Regions from separate parts of the Homo sapiens genome. Here region 1 is linked to region 2. The links come from fine-mapping of genetic effects on gene expression. A gene starts in region 2. The other region holds a variant in brackets. All regions are shown on one strand. Distances are from middle to middle. Region 1 overlaps SLAMF8 (SLAM family member 8). Region 2 holds the start of FCRL6 (Fc receptor like 6).

Evidence for each region.
Region 1: its variant is fine-mapped to the expression of FCRL6 in macrophages (Nedelec 2016, PIP 0.95).

Annotation. Positions count from the first base shown.
Region 1 is chr1:159,828,839-159,831,751 of GRCh38, forward strand. SLAMF8 (SLAM family member 8) reads left to right here. Exons shown (of 5, transcript NM_020125.3): 2 at 1,028-1,354. Among named protein-coding and RNA genes, the nearest start is that of SLAMF8, 3.4 kb to the left of the region's middle. The variant C/T (reference allele first, on the strand shown) is at 1,477.
Region 2 is chr1:159,801,163-159,804,075 of GRCh38, forward strand. FCRL6 (Fc receptor like 6) reads left to right here and starts at 1,198. Exons shown (of 10, transcript NM_001004310.3): 1 at 1,198-1,293. The coding sequence starts at 1,263. It overlaps LOC105371464 (a long non-coding RNA gene), which reads right to left. Exons shown (of 3, transcript XR_922195.2): 1 at 1,376-2,913; 2 at 786-985.

The sequences.
Region 1 (2,913 bases), 28 kb after region 2:
GGAGTCAGGGGGGCACTTCAAGGAGAAGCGTCTCCCATACACGTCTGACTCAAATATAGTCCCCCAAAACAGCATCTTGCTTTCTCACCCCCTGTCTGTTTCTCCTCCTGTTCTGGATCACAGAGAATAACATCCAGTGGATCCCAAGGACCTGGGAGCCGTCCTCGACTCCTTTTTCTCCTTCACTCCCCAGAGCTAATCTATTACCAAATCCTACTGATTACACACCATCTTCGTGTTTCTCAATTCCTCCCACTTCTTCCCATCCCGGTTGCTCCCTTCCTCAATTCAAGTTGCCGTCACTTCTCCACTGGACTAACATGAACAGCCTAAGTCCTGCCCACCTCCAGTGCATTCTCCACATCCCTGCTGGAGTGATCTTTCTAACCATGCATCTAATCCTGTTACGCTCCTGCTTAAAACCTACCTGAGACGCCCCATTGCTCTACAGATAAAGCCCAAACTCCAGTATTGCTTTCAGGTCTCTGCATGATCTGACTCCTACCAACTCTGCAGTGTAATTTCCTACTCCTCACACAGAGAACTACTCTCAGTTCCCCTGGGCACCAACTCTCCCCCTCCAGGCCTTTGTCAGTACTGTGCCCTCTGCCGGTGACACTTCCCTATCCTGCTCCAGGCCGCCCTCGGCTTGGCCTGGCTGATTCCCATTCCTCTTCAAGGCTCAGCTTAACAATTTGTTTTCTGAGCCCATCAAGGCTGGGTGAGATCCCCTGTCACCCTACCTGTGTTCTCCCAGGGCATCTCATTTTTCCCTTCATGGTATTTAACAGAATTCATTTTTATTGATTTCTTGAATGTCTGGCTTCCTCTGTAAGTTCCATGAATGCAGAGACTGGGGTTATCTTCCATATGTTTTATCCCTGGTACCTAGCACAGTGCAACCTCAACTTGAGTGGAGGGAATGTCAGTGGAGGGGCCCCAATTCACCCTATAGCAGCTCAGATGCATGCAAAGAAGGATGAGGAGTGTGGGGCAGGCAGAGTGACCAGGGGCTCTGTTCTTTCAGCCCTACTTCCCATTACAGTTACTGGTGCCCAAGTGCTGAGCAAAGTCGGGGGCTCGGTGCTGCTGGTGGCAGCGCGTCCCCCTGGCTTCCAAGTCCGTGAGGCTATCTGGCGATCTCTCTGGCCTTCAGAAGAGCTCCTGGCCACGTTTTTCCGAGGCTCCCTGGAGACTCTGTACCATTCCCGCTTCCTGGGCCGAGCCCAGCTACACAGCAACCTCAGCCTGGAGCTCGGGCCGCTGGAGTCTGGAGACAGCGGCAACTTCTCCGTGTTGATGGTGGACACAAGGGGCCAGCCCTGGACCCAGACCCTCCAGCTCAAGGTGTACGGTGAGTGTGTCTGACACTGGCTGCCTGGCCCTCTTCCCCCACAAAGCACCAGACGAGCATCCTGAGTCATAGCAGCCAGGGAGAGCTGGGTTCCAGAAAGCTCTGGTCTCTGACCATGTTGC[C/T]GACTCAGGGAACAGCTGCTCCCTGGCAGTCACGTCTAAGAAAATTCCTCCTGGCTGCAGCAGCCAGGCTTTGCCATTTCACAGTGCTTGCCTGAACTCTAGCTCAGTCTTTTCTTGGCTCAGTGGCCTTGGACACAATGCTTAGCCTCCCTGGCCTTCACCTTTCTCCTTTGTAAATGGGCATTGTAATATTACCATGTAGAGTACCCACAGGATGAAATGCAGTGGCATTTGCAGTGGCATCCAGGACAGAGCCTGGCCTGTGCTTCCTCAGTTCTAAAGGATCATCATAGACTATAAGATGTGCCACTAGTCTATGTAGTCTATGTAGTCTGTGTAGACTATGTGTCATTAGTCTAAAGGAAAAAAAATGATGTACCATACTAAACTATGACATAATGGGTTTATTTAAAAATCAAATTATAATGAAACTGTAATTAAAAGTATAGAATTTACACATTTCTTAAAAGGGCTTCTTAGAGAGATCTTAACTATATATGATTCATGGGTTCTCTCAGTCATTCATCATTGCAAAACAAACCATCCCAAAACTTACTGACTGAAAACAACAACGATGTTTACTTCTCATAATTCCGTGGGTTGGCAGGCCCAGCTGGGTGCGACTTCTGCTTCGCATGGGTCTGCAGAGCCATTCGCGCAGCTACATTCAGCACCTCGGTTGGCTGCATGGACTGGGGGCTGCGTGGGCCTTGTTTCCCAACAACTCCACCTCCACCTCCACCACAGCCACCTCCACCACCTTCATCATTTGTCTTCTGGTCAAGAAAGAGTGGCTTTCAGCTCTCATTTATCTACCTAATGGGCTAGAAAAGAGGCATGGGTGACCCTAAATCACTGTTTCAGTAAAACCTTAGAAATTTAGATAGAGTGGAAGAGAGGGGAGTCCAGATTTAAGAATGGAAAGCAGAGGTAGCAGCTGGGAAGAGGGTAGCCATGAGGGAGATAAAGATTGTAAGCAAATTGGGGAGATGTCTTGAATCCCCCCGAGACAGCTAACTGGCTGTCCTTGGGCGAGCCACTCAGGGTGCCGATGCAATTGCAAGGTGCCTTTCTGGATGCACGCAGCCCTGAGCCTCATCTTGGCAAGCAGAGTGCTGGCTGGATTTCAGCACCCCCCACCCCCTGCCACCTGTTACCCTGTGACCCCCCTTAGCCCAATGTCCTTGTGTAGTGAATAACCTACCCCACCATACAGGCAGCCCTGGAGCCCCTCCTCTGATCTGAGTCTCAGCTGCCGCACATGTGAAATGAGGACATTGAATGTGATAATACATGCAGCACCCACACCACTAAGCTCTAAAATGCCTTGTTCTCAGCAGCTGAATTACAGATTTTAAGGAAATTGCTGTTTTATTGCTTCCAAATACATAGCGTGATTAGAACTAATTGCACGAAGCTGCCAAGCAGCCGTCCTTA
Region 2 (2,913 bases):
ACATTGAATAATTTCCAGTTTTTATCTATTACAAATGATGCTGCTATGAGCACTCTTGTATATGTTTTTTCAGGCTTATATGTATACATTTCTGTTTGACATTTACCCAGGAGTGAAAATGCTGAGCCATCAGGGATCCCTGTGTTTAGTTTTGGTAGATTCTGCCAAGCCATTTTCTAGTGACTGTACCAATTTATATTCCCACTAGTGGTGTACAAGAGTTCTAGTTTCTTCACATCCTCACCAATACTCAGTAGAGGATTGCATGGGGAGGGTCACGGGCTCCCCCAGACCCAGCTCAGTCTCAGCTGGTATCACTCCCTTATTCTTATGGAAGGTGTAGTGGTATCTTATTATGGTTTAAATTTGCATTTCCACGGTGATTTATGATGTCTAGCTCCTTTTGCTATGTTGATTTGACACGTGGATATCTGCTTCTGTGAAGTACCTATCCAATTATTTTTGCCCATTTTTCTAGTATGTTGTCTGTCCTTTTCTTACTGACTTGCAGAAATTCTTATATTTCTTCTGTGGGCCCTTTGTCAGCTACATGTATTTAAACTATCTCATCACACCACAGCTTGCCTGTTCCTTCTCTTAATGGTGTCTTTTAAGGAATAGTTCTCAAAATCATACTGACAGTCTTAAAAGCCTCAGATGCCGAAGCTCCATCTGTGTTCTACTCCAGACTCATCGATGTCTGATTCCCTCCTGAACTGAGGATCCTGTGAAGCATCCTCAGGGCTCCACTTCTCCATCGCATTGCAGCATCCACACACATTTACCTCTGGAGACAGGAGCTCCTTGGAAGCTGGGAGGTCACTCGGTGGTCAAGGGGTAGATGATCTTAGTTTTACAGTGCTGCGCTGTCTCCCAGGCTGAATGACGCTGAAGCCAAGCAAATTCGGGCAGTCTCTGGACCTTTCTAATGGAGGTGTCCCATAACCATGTTCCATCCTAGTTCCCTGGCATAGGCTTGTTGAAGCTGCAGAAAATGTCAGGGATTTATTAGTGATTTACCGACTCCTTCATACTTAGTGTTCAGGAAAATTTATTCATGTAATACTTCTTCAACCAAAGAGGAAATATCAATTAGAGCTTTGTAAGTTTCTTTTCCACTTCCTATTTTGGCTATCAAGCTATAGCACCACCCAGCTCAGGCCACCCACCCACCTTCGGTCCTGAGGCCTGGTTGCTCTCTGCCGGCTTCGCCCTGACCTGTTTCTGACCTGTGTTCCCTCCGCTGTGCCAGAACAGGCCCCATGCTGCTCTGGACGGCTGTGCTGCTCTTTGGTAAGTCAACGAGCATGGGCATCCCCTCTTGGAGCACTAAGGACCGTAAGTCATCCCTGAGACACCAAGTTCCTCATCTTACCTTTCCCAATTCCAGTGGGTTTGTGGCTGGAGCTCAAGACAGGTGTGTGCACCTGGGCATGCTTGGGAGAGATGGGCACTGGGGTAGGAGAAACTCCTCAGTGTTTCCTACCCCGTAGTCCTGGGTCCTTGGCAGCGCAGCCCTTTGATATGTCAGAGATAAATTAGGGAGGCAGAAAATCACATTACAAAGTCCCCTAACTTCCCAATGACATTTCTACCTTGTGACATCAGGTTAAAATACTAATCAGAGCTGTCTCAAAAGGAAATGGAGGTTGCAGGAGGGAAGGAGGCTGCTGGGGGCAACAGGGAAGGAGTCAGGGAAATGAGGGGAAACAGTCCCAGGCATTTTGCTCAGCAATGGGAGGTGGAATTTTACAGGGTGACATATTTTTATGGAGCCTCAGCATTTTCTTAGAACCAGGTAACAATGGCCAGACCTCTCACCTGGTTGAAAGGCCTGTGCTCTGAGTAACCAAAGCCCTTTTCAAATTGACTGTCTCTCTTCCGCCTACATCTTCTCTCTGTTGGGAGCTGTTTCAGATCCATGGGGCTGGTTTGAAGAATCAACTCCATTGTCTGATCCATGTCTCTCTCTCTCTTCTCTCCATTTCTTCTCATGCAGGCTACTTGTAACTAAGAGAGCTGGTCTAAGGGTAGAGGATTGCACGCAGAGGGTCACTGGGCTCCCCCAGACCCAGCTCAGTCTCAGCCAGTGTCACCCCCCTTATACCTAAAAGAAATAATTTGGCATATATTTTGTTTCACTTTACAGTTTCCAAGTGGACCTACTTTTTGTTTAATTCTTGGTCCCAATAGCTTGCTTGCTATTTGTATTCCTTGAACTAGAAAAGCAAAACTGTTCCTAAATATAACCTCTTCCTGGACAGAGTTTGTGAGAATTTGACCCTGTGAGGAAAATGCCCCTTCCACTCAATGTTCCTTCTCCAGCATAGCATGCTACTCGTGTGTTCTATGAATGGCCATTTGGACAAATGAAAAGGTCTAATGCTCACACTGAGGCGGGGACAGGATAGCCTAATGCCTGGATATACTCCAGGCAGAAGACTCCCAGGGGCAAATGGCACTACCGGCACTACCTTGTAAAAGGAACAGCCCTTGGACTTGTCTAGATACAGTCTGAGAGTGTTCCAGCTTGGAACCCAGGACGAGGATGACAGACAGCAAATGAGGAGAGGAAGGGAATCAGTGACCGGCTGACTGGTGCACAGTGTAATGGAGAATCCAGCACCAGCAAATTTGGTCCCACTTGATGCTCAGGGACCCTGGAAAAACAGCCTAAAACACAGACACTGGGGCTGGGTGTGTAGCAACATTTATCTTACCATAAGTGTAGAGCTGCTATTTCCTCTCTCAAGAGCAGGGTGTGGTCATAATAAATTGGTGGCTATTACTATTATTGGCTGTCAGGGCTCCGGGAGGAAAGGAATCCTGACATTGAGCATGTGGGGACCTGGCTGAATGTGAAATATGTATTTAAAGTTTGGGAAATTAGGCTTAATTTTCTTCTGAGCTGAA